Linked DNA regions of Homo sapiens. The protein of the gene in region 2 interacts with the protein of the main gene of each other region in a pairwise test. Each region holds a gene or a part of one and is shown on either strand. Other genes may lie near its edges.

Region 1 (3,756 bases), on a different chromosome or scaffold from region 2:
TCCAGGTTCATTTTGAGCTTACCCTGCCATAGACCTGGAAGAAGCTGGGGTTTTGTTGTTGTTGTTGTTTTGTTGTTGTTTTTGAGTTGTAGTCTCACTCTGTCACCCAGGCGGGAGTGCAGGGCCTGATCATGGCTCACTGCAACCTCCACCTCCTGGGTTCAAACGATTCTCCTGCCTCAGCCTCCTGAGTAGCTGGGACTACAGGCACGTGCCGCCACGCCTAGCTCATTTTTGTATTTTTAGTAGATATGGGGTTTCACCATGTTGGCCAGGCTGCTCTCAAACTCCTGACCTCAGGGGATCCACCTGCCTTGGCCTCCCAAAGTGCTGGGATTACAGGCATGAGCCGCTGTGTCCGGCCAGAAACTATTTTTTAAACAAGTCTTGTAATTGGTTTTTGAGCAGGAAGTGATATGCCCAAAATGTGCTTTTGGAAGATTGCTCTGGCAGTGGTCACACAAGCTGGAAGTAAGAGACCTCAAAGATAAGGATCCAGCTTGGAGACAGATGCAAGTTGAGGTGACAAAGACACACATTGGAGGAAAACACATTAAGGAGGAAATGAGTAGCTGGAGATGAAAAAAAAAAAAAAATCCAGAGCTGGGGCTTGGATAAAAAGGAGACAGAAATAAGGATACCAAGAAAGGTTATTTGGTTTGGGGGAAAAATTAGCTTTAGAAATGTTGATTGCAGGGTGAGAGTAGGCAGCAGAATAGTAACATGCAGTAACCAATTGATAATAAATTCAAAAGCTGAGACCAGAAAAAGTAAGACCAACAAACCTGTGATTTTAGGAATAAAAATCATCTCAATAACATTTCTTTGTTTAAAATTATTTCACTGAGTATGACATTAATATATCCTCTTTATGGAAAACTGGAAAAAATATTCACTGGGAAGATCAGTGAAGAATTTCTTCATTGGGGGAAACTGGCAGCCATAGCATACACACACATGCACACGCACACACTACAATCTAATGAGTGGATACCATTGCACTATCAAGGTAAGCCTCAAAATAAAGTGGGAATAAGAATTTGAATCATAGTTTTCTTTTCTGTAAACTGTAGATGATGTAGACAGGAATGGTACCTATGTGACAGGGCAATTTCAAAAATAAAATATAATAAAATATTAGCTATTATTTCAAGTGCCCTTATTTGGCCAATATTTGCTTTCCAGGAATAATTGTCCAAGAATTTTGGCAGAAAACCAGACTCCATGCAGGAATGGAGAGTGCCTTAGTTCCTGCTGCTATAATAAAAATACCTTAGACTGAGTAATTAATAACAGAATTTTATTATTCACACTTCTGGAGGCTGGAAAGTCCAAGATCACTGGCAGATTCAGTGTCTGGTGAGGGCTCATTCCTCATAAATGGCACCTTCTATGTGTCCTCGCATGGTGCAAGGGAGGTAAGAGTACTCCCCTCAACCCCTTTTATAAGGGCACCACTCTCATTCATGAGGGAAGAGCCATCATAACTTAGTCACTTCCAAAAACATCCCACCTCTTAATATCGCCACAGTGAGAATTAGGTTTCCATGTGAATTTTGGAGGAACACATTCAGGCCATAGCAGATAACAACCAAGAAATGAATCAATTTTTATTACATTTTGGAAGTTACAAACTGATGCAGATTCAGTTTTTCCCACAATATGTACTTTGTTTGGTTTAAATGAAGATTAATTGCCAATATTTTACAATTGAAAAGTTTTACATAAAAATCCATATTTTTACTTTCTACTGAAAACTGAGAATTATTGCCCTACTTGATCATGGCAACAACTGGCTGGACTTCAGTAGCAGCTCCTTCTCCTCCTTAGATGGAAATTGTGCTCTGATGCCTACCAGGCTCATTTAATTCATTTATGTCACACACGTGGCTTCTGGGGGCATTTGAATTGGGACTTCTCTTCTAGAACTTACCTTGAAAAGGCCAAAAAGGGAACCCGGAGAATCCTCTCTTTCTTTCTCCTGCTGTTCCCAATGAGATGTTAGTCATCTAATTTAATGCTGATTATAAGACCCTTTTCAGACTATTTCTAGCATCTATTTGTGCTAGAAGTGCTAATAGTGAGTTAAGGCAAATTGAACATGTGAATTTTTATTTTACACTTAATATCACATATATTTGTTTTCTAGAAATTCTCTGAGTATCATAACTTGAATCTATACCTGAATTTATTATTTCCCCTAGGCAATTTTGAAATCTCTTCCATAAGTATATTACAAGTAGCTACTGGAGGATGACTGAGTCAACTGGTCACACACACACACACACACACACACACACACACACACACACGAGTGTATTTTAAATTTTCAATTCTTCTCCATAAGGGACACAGTACTAAATAAAGCAACGAATTTAATTTTTAAAAGACATTGGTCAAAGAAAATTTGCCATACAATCTTGACTACGCATTGAAATATCCTGGGGAGATTTAAAACATATCCATGCCCAGGTTGTACCTCAGACTAACTAAATCAGGGACTCTGGGGATGGGATTTAGGCATTAGTGTTGTTCCAAGCTCCCAGGTGATTGCAATATGAAGCTAACAGGTAGAAGCACTGCTGCAAAAAATGCCTACCAGATATCATCATAAAACTCCTCCTAGCTAATAATCACTTGTTCTCTTTGAGCCACAAGTGCTTCATCTATAAAATAGGAGCAATAATGACTTAATTCACTGAGTAAATGTGAAAGAACTATAAAGTGCTATGCAAGTGTGAATAAACGATGAAGAGGAGGAAGAGGATGAGAAGGAGAATGGTAGAAATGCAGGAGCACTGGCTTAGAAAATGCGGTTGTATTATTCACCCTGATACTATTTTAATTATTTTTCAAGTGCCAACTTAGAAAATGCACATCACATACACCCAACAATATGGATGAATCTAAAAATTATTATCCTGGATGAAAAAACCCAGATAAAAAAGACAAATATTGTATGATTCCACATATATAAAATACAAACTAATCTATAATGACAAAAAGTAAATCAAAGGTTAATCTTTGGGGGTTGGCAGAAATATTCTGTTATCTTGACTGCAATGGTGGTTTCATGAGTGTAGTCAACTGTTAAAACTCATGATATTGCATAATTTTAATGGATGCCACTTATTATATGTAATTTAGCCCTCAATAAAGTTTGTAAAGAAAAAATAGACTAATGGAAACTTAGTTAGGAAAAAAAAGTATTATTTCCTAATTTTAGGTATCTTTAAATGCTGATTTTCTGAAAGTGCATCAGTAGAACAAAAGTGGAGGAAAGACTAAGCAAAATGGAAGATGATCTTGGCAGTAAACTCTTGATCTCTGTACTGTACTCAACAGTAGTGAGGGTATAATACTGTCAATATTTTTGTGTTTCTGAGTGAGAGGAAAGAAAGCTGGAGCCCACTCAACCATCCTCAAAAAAACTGTTGCTCTTACCACATATTTTTTGCTGCAGTTTTCACTCTGGCAACATTTATAGTTGTTATTATTCTCCAGTACCAGAAGAACTGTTGTTACTATAAGCATCTATAGGAGGGAAGACATAAAATGTTAGCAATGAAATGCTAGTTTACATTTGTGCTTATAATCAGAGGACAGCGTCTTCAAGCATAGAGTCTGGGGTCAGGTAGATATGGATTTGAATCCAAGCTCTGTCACTTTCTAGCTGTGTGAATTTGAGACACCTTCTGTATAAAATGGTATCAAGAGATCGTCACGAGGTAATATATGTGACATTTTGAGTATAGT
Region 2 (3,756 bases):
GATAAAACGGGGAGGGAAGGATCTTATCTTTACCACCTTCCTTTTGGCTATTTCCTTCTGACTTCTGTCTCTGTCTCTGTCTTCTCTTTCATCAGTCCCTTCCTTCGCTCCTAAATGTAGACCCTGGAGAGCCGCTGCCCTAGGGCTCAGGTGCCAGCTCTCTTAGCAGAAGCACCTGTGCAGAAATTTTCTGGCAACTGGGCCCCTGCTCATTTCATATTCACAATCTCTGCCCACACACTATGTTTTGGTCTTGGTAACTGGCCCTCTTTCTCTTTCCTGTGATCACGTCCCCACTGACGCTCCTGTTTGTAGGACTAGGACCTCGCTTTCCTTGCTGTGAACATTCTTCTCTGTCTCACAGACTCCCCTGGGGCATGGATCAGGGGCTGTGCCCTCATTCTTTCTCTCAGGCCTGGCCCTGTGACCTTCATAAGGATTGTGGTTTGAATCTTCACGTTACCTACTTCCTTACTCCTTGTCACTTGGCTCTGATCTTTCTATTGCCTATTTTAGGACATTTATTTAGGATAAGCATATAATTTGGCCACTTTTGAAACTGAAAGGAGGCCGGGCGCGATGGCTCATGCCTGTAATCCCAGCACTTTGGGAGGCTGAGGCAGGTGAATCACCGGAGGTCAGGAGTTCGAGACCAGCATGACCAATACGGTGAAACCCTGTCTCTACTAAAAATACAAAAATTAGCTGGGAGTGGTGGTGCATGCCTGTAGTTGCAGCTATTCAGGAGGCTGGAACAGGAGAATTGCTTGAACCCGGGAGGCGGAGGTTGCAGTAAGCCAAGATTGCACCATTGCATTCCAGCCTGGATGACAGAGTGAGACGCCATCTCAATAAACAAACGAAACAAACAAACAAATACAAAAAACCTAAAAAAACCAAAAAACAAAAAAGAAACTGAAAGGAGGGGTTTTAACAATCATATTAGGATAACAGGCACACTTCGGGCTTCACCATTGTACAAAACAGAGATTTTGCACAGGGCTTTTCCAGTTAAATTTTAGGAAAGCTGGGTAACATTTCTATACCATAGTTTTCTCTACCATAACATCGGGTTAATAGTAGTACCTGGGTCCTGGGTTATTGTGAGGATGAGATGAATTAACATATGTAAAGCATTCAGAACAATGACCTGTATGTAGTAACCATTTAATACATTTAAACAATAATTAGCATTATTATTATATCTGTGATATTGGGCAAAGTAATTAACCTCTCTAAGCATGTAAGAATTGAATGTCATCACGCATATAAGGTACATAGCACCGTTGCTGGCACATCATGTAAAATAAGTGCCTGAGTGACCACCTCCCTCCTCCAGATGCTTCTCTTACAGTGTGACTTTGTCTCTTCTTGCTATGCACCTAACACTGTTCTACCTCCAACCCACAACCTCTTCCCACTTGTCTACCCATATTGTTGCTTGTGTTTCCTGTTCCAGCAATGTGTTAAGCAACATCTGAAAGCCAGAAGACAGTTATCCCTCACACCAGTTTCCTAATCATCACTAAGCCCTGGGGAAACACAATGGATCAGCGAGGCCCCAAATGCAGATGTGATTAGCACACTGGTCAGTCAGCCCGCAAAACACTTTCACCAAGTCCTCTAAAGTGTTGCATAAGGCAAAGATAACGTTAAGTCTGTGGAGGCTTCCGTTATCGGGAAAAGATGCTGTAGTGATCTTTTCTGAGTGTCTCCTACTTGCGACAAGGTGGACTTGGGAGGAAAGCCGTCTGCCAAAGCCTGAAGCCTCCAAGGTATAGATTCCCTCTCCATAGACATTCCCCTTTCTTTTATATCTTTCGTTAAAATGCCTCCCAGTGGACTACTGGGGATGTCTGCAAAGGTCTCTGTTTGGTTGCTATGTAGAGGTTTGGAACATTTAACTGTGAACATGGCTTCTCTTTAGGATGTGATGATTCCTTTGGAGCCATGATAAAAAGTGTTAGACATAATAATACAGCAATTTCTTTGGGAAAATGTGGGTATGGATACACACACATGCACACGCACCTCTTAGGTACATTAAATCCCACTGGCTGCACCTGAGTTTGTCTGCCAGCTCTGATGATGAGGGGTGGTCTCGATATGCCTGAAGTATGGGGTCTGCAAAGTGCATTTTAGCATAGCTCAGGGGACAGTGGAGTGTAATGATAGCTTGAGGTTCTGATTTTTAGCTTCTCAAATTGCTGGCTGTGTGGGCTTGGGAAAGCTACTTAACTTCTTTGTTCCTCAGCTTCTTCATCTGTTAGATGGAAAGGATCATAGCAGTAGTACCCATTCATCTGATGTTGTGAGAACTAAATTAGTAAACATGGATAAAGCCCTTAGAACAAATGCCTGCCACATACTAAGAGCTGGAGAGATGAACTTAACTGGCAGTTTCCTAGAAAATCTACATTTCTCTGATTTTGTGTGTGTGTGTGTGTGTGTGAGAGAGAGACAGAGTCTCGCTCTGTCACCCAGGCTGGAGTGCAATGGCACGATTTCGGCTCACTGCAAACTCCGCCTCATGGGTTCAAACAATTCTCCTGCCTCAGCCTCCTGAGTAGCTGGGATTACAGGCGCGTGCTGTCACAACCAGCTAATTTTATGTGTTTTTAGTAGAAACAGGGTTTCACCATGTTAGCAAGGATGATCTCAATCTCCTGACCTTGAGATCCTCCCGCCTCTGCCTCCCAAAGTGCTGGGATTACAGGCATGAGCCACTGCACCCGGACCATTTCTCTGATTTTTTTAAAAATAAATAACTGATTTAACCAAATTTTAGAAAACATAGTTTGTTTCACCTGGAGGCTGAAAATTCTCCCTGATTATTTTGATTATTTGAAACAAATCAAGTTAAATAATATGGTTAGATATTTGCTCTCTTCAGAAATGCTCTTGGAGTTTCTTGAGATGAGAGGCTCCAGTGCTTGCAGAGGTATTTTCCATCATCATTTATCAGGATGGCTACCTTGGGCTGGACCAAAAGTCTGGTTACTGATTGAACATGTGTGTTAACTGAGTGCTTGCCATCTGATGATTCTGAGCTAGGCACTGGAGTTGCAGTGATGAGTAGACAACGAGGTAACAGACAAGTATCCAGGCAATTAAAGCTCAGGCTGATTAAGTGGTATGAGAAGGAAAGTTGAGGAAATTTTGAGAGCAACCCAAAGGGGTGCATGCTTCTTCCAGAGTTGGCCAGGACTAAAAACAGCATCCTGGAAGTATGACATGTGGGCTGAAAATCAGTCTGGAAGGGCCGGGCGCATTGATTCACGCCTGTAATCCCAGCACTTTGGGAGGCTGAGGTGGGTGGATCACCTAGGTCAAGAGTTCGAGACCAGCCTGGCCAACATGGTAAAACCCCATCTCTACTAAAAGTACAAAAATTAGCTGGGTGTGGTGGTGCACGCCTGTAATCCCAGCTACTTGGGAGGCTGAGGCAGGATCATAGCTTGAGCCCAGGAGGCGGAGGTTGCAGTGAGCTGAGATCGGGCCTCTGCACTCCAGCCTGGGAGACAGAGCAAAGCTCCAACTCAAAAAAAAAAAAAAAAAAAAAAAAAAAAAAAAAAAATTCAGTCTGGAAGGAGAGCAGAAATTATCCAGGTGAAGCTTGAGGGGACTTGTCTTTCAGGAATGGGGGATAGCACAGAGGATTGAAGACATTTGAGGGTTTAGAACTTCTGAAGGAAGACAAATCAAGAAAATAAGGCTGGATGGAGTTTTGAGATAGGGATGGGTGAGGGGTGAGGC
Region 3 (3,756 bases), 470 kb from region 2:
ACTTCTGACAGCTTTTACAGAGTCGCTGGCACAGCTCACTATCTAAACTCTCCAGTTAGTAAGATTTGACTTTCCTGTCTCTAATGATAAGATGGCCACCAACAGATTTATCAAGCAATCCTTTTCTATTAAAACAGCTATTATTAATCACAACCCTTCTTAAATTTACATACATGGTGATAAAACTCTCACATATATATTGCTCTAATATCATTTAAAATGATTAATACATTCAAAAAGAGTTCAAAGAACATTTAACTTGGAAGCATAAGGTGATTGTGACTGCTGGGATAAATAAAACAGATTCCCTTCTGTTGCTATCAGAAAGATATTTTCAACTACAAATCCGATTGGTTAGTTATGTGAATAATATTGGTACTCATCCTGAAAATGTGGGTTTTGTGCTGGCTGTGGAAAGACAAGAATGATACTCAGAACTAGAAAGAATGACATCATAATTCTCTCCCTTTCAATTCCTTCTCTAACTCTTCCTCCTCCTTCTTTGTTTGGTTTATTTAATATCTTTTATATTCAAGAAACTATCTGGTAGTAGGAATTAGATGATAGGAATGCAATGACACATAACTTCCTGATTTCTTAGAGTTTATAATGAAGTAGAAGAGACAGAAAGATAATATAAGGTACCATAAAAAATGGATAAAAACTTGCTCAATCATTATAGGGGACAGGAGGGACAGGAGGTTCACTCCAAGCTATTACTCTCTGGGAAGGCTTCATAAAGTGGTAGGACCTTTGAAATAAGGGTAGGACTGAGAAAAACGAAGGAAGGAAACAGCATTCTAGGCAACTTTAAATTTTTATTTGCTTGTTTCCTTGTAACCTATCTTGTTTCAGAAAGAGTTTAATAGCATAAATTAAAAGTGTGACAAAATAATTTAAAAATTGAGACATAAAATACAACCAGTAGAGTAAAGCTAAAATACATATTTGAACAACCTATGGTTTTTAATGTGAGAACAAAACTGAGTGTAAGCAATATAACATTTTGAGAAAATGAAAAACAGGTTTTAACTGAATTACAGTGTTCATTCATATATGATATAAACAGGAGGATAAGGAAAAGATGTAGAAAGTTTGAAATACCAAGGTAAATAATTTTGATTTACTTTTGTTGGCAGAAATGCACAATCATAATCATAACATTTTAGCTAGAAAGTACTTGGGACCTCTTAGCTGACAAGACTGTGAAAAGTCATTTTACCCATATTCCTTATTTTTTTTAATTTTTTAATTTAATTTATTTTGAGACTGAGTCTCGCTCTATCACCCAGGCTGGAGTGCAGTGGCGCAATCTCGGCTCACTGCAACCTCTGCCTCCTGGGTTCAAGCGATTCTCGTGCCTTAGCCTCCGGAGTAGCTGGGATTACAGGTGCCCACCGCCATGCCCAGCTAACTTTTGTATTTTTAGTGGAGACAGGGTTTCACCTTGTTGGCCAGGCTGGTCTCGAACATCTGATCTCAAGTGATCCGCCTGCCTTGGCCTTCCAAAGTGCTGGGATTACAGGCGTGAGCCACCGTGCCTGGCCCCATATTCTTTAATTTATATGAGAGTGCTATTCTAAAACTCCCTCCCTGACTGAAAGCGGCAAAAGGTTGGCCAGAGCAGCTCAAATATGAAAACTGAGGAAACGGAAACACACACACACACACACACACACACACACACACAGAGAGAGAGAGAGAGAGAGAGAGAGAGAGAGAGAGAGAGAGAGAGAGACGGAATGAATGAGTTCCTGGCAGATGATGTAAACTGTAAGCTTCTGGACCCAGCTTAAGTAAAGTAAGTGACCCTTTTTGCCTTAAGTCAACTTGGGTTGTATTTCCTATTACTTAAAACCAAGATAACCCTAATTAATAAATACTTAAATGAAGAATAAGCAATATTTGGTAATTATAAAGACAGTAGAAAGAGATGAGGTATTATGTCAAGGTTTTGTATGTGGGAGATTGAAACGAGGGAGTCTTGCAGTATAGTACTTCTGAGGAGGTAAGTAATTTCCATTTTATATCTGTTGAGTTTGATATAATAGTGATAGAAACATAGCCAAGTAGAAAAGTCAAACTAGCTTTTAAAACAACAGGCCGGGAGTTTGGAAGAAAGAACAGAGCAGTTAACTAGCAGGCATTTTCTTCATTTCTCACAAAAGAAAACTTGGAAACAGTTAAGTTAAGAAACTTTTCCAGGGGTTTACACACAGTGAGTACTGAGGATAGTATTTAAATAAGTGCACTCTGATCCTGGAATCTATACTATTAACCATTTTGCTATATGAGGAGTATATTTCAGATGCATGCACTTTTCTGACCCTGCCTGGGAACACTGAAAACTTGATGACTTTGTAGATTTAGCCAAGCCCCTTGCTTATGTGAGAAAAGTTGGCATGTAAAAGTCCTGTAAAATGTTGGCTGCCTTAGCAAGTGTAAGTATATAATTCTGTAATGACACTAGAAAAAGATGGTGGCTTTGAGATATAAGTCTAATATACAAGCTCATTTTGTGTAACTAATCACAGCAAACTTGTGCTGAACTTGTGATTTTGAGAGACTATAAAACTGGTCGTTATCATTGAGTTCAGATCAGATAAATACAGACTACAATAGTTTGTCACACTGACTGCAAAAGGCAATCCTTGGCAATTATGCCATATTAAACTGATAATTAAAAGTTTATGAATAAGAATGGTGACATATAACTTGAAACAATTATGCACTTAATAACTTAAGTCCTCCTTTCCTATTCTCTGCCCTCAAAATTAGAACTAAAGATTTCTAGATTGAATGTTCAGGGCAACTGGACAATTTTCTTATAATTTATAGGGAAAATCTGGTCCATGTTTGTTTACATAATCACTTGTTACAGATAATATATTTTGGGGTATTAGTGCATTTTTCTATTATTGTATCACTGTCCTCCAGGGTTTTGTTCTCCAGGTTTGGGTTCTTTCCTCTGATGTCCCCCTTAATAATATGTCACAGGTATGGAGTGAAAGTGTGTAGGGGAGGAGGAGGAAGTTTATCCTTCACCTGTAATGACGCTTCTACTCATTACTGAAATTGTTATTTGTTTTGTTCTGTTGGTCAGACAAGGTGTTTCACTCCAATTTGTCCTCACTTTAAATGTGAGATTTTGTATTAACTTTGCTAAGGTCTTTTGCCCCACTAATATTTTATGATTCTGAATTTAAAGCCAATATAATTAAAATAAAACTATTGTGTTATCAGTAAAAATCTTCACATTTACTGGGCAACTAAATGGAAACAAGTTAGGTTTATTTATATTTAGCATTTTTGGCCTTAAAGCAAAATTTATGTAAGATGCAAAGATAGGCTATGTATGAAAAATTCTATGTTAAGCCAGAAATTACTAGGTGTCTACAATTTGAACCATATGTGTCAGTAGCAGAATTCTTTTGTTTATTTGCAAAATGGTTTTATTGTCCAGGATTATACTTTTCTTGTATTAAGAGAATCATTAAGTGGCTCTGTGCCTAATACATAGACACTTGCCACTGAAGCTTTCAAATTTTTACTCACTTTAATTCAGCAAGTCAAGAATTCAAACATTCTCTTAATATTTACTAAAACTCACAGCCTAGAATTATTTTTGATTTAAAATTTTCAATCAAGAGCTCACAACTAAATCAAAGAATTTCATGAGGACGAATAAAAGCCTCATCTTACCTCCTAAGATTTCAAAATTATTAAAAAGAATAATTTTAAAATTAATATGTTCCC

Evidence for each region.
Region 1: the proteins of MS4A3 (region 2) and TM4SF18 interact in binary tests that used the Homo sapiens proteins (3 or more experiments, as listed by UniProt).
Region 3: the proteins of MS4A3 (region 2) and MS4A13 interact in binary tests that used the Homo sapiens proteins (3 or more experiments, as listed by UniProt).

The regions. Positions count from the first base shown.
Region 1 is NC_000003.12:149,326,886-149,330,641, forward strand, and holds part of TM4SF18 (transmembrane 4 L6 family member 18), read right to left. Parts: intron 3,535-3,756; coding exon 3,445-3,534; intron 1-3,444.
Region 2 is NC_000011.10:60,054,966-60,058,721, forward strand, and holds the start of MS4A3 (membrane-spanning 4-domains subfamily A member 3), read left to right. Parts: upstream 1-1,699; 5' UTR 1,700-1,775; intron 1,776-3,756. UniProt on the Homo sapiens protein: Hematopoietic modulator for the G1-S cell cycle transition. Modulates the level of phosphorylation of cyclin-dependent kinase 2 (CDK2) through its direct binding to cyclin-dependent kinase inhibitor 3 (CDKN3/KAP).
Region 3 is NC_000011.10:60,525,345-60,529,100, reverse strand, and holds part of MS4A13 (membrane-spanning 4-domains subfamily A member 13), read right to left. Parts: intron 1-3,756. UniProt on the Homo sapiens protein: May be involved in signal transduction as a component of a multimeric receptor complex.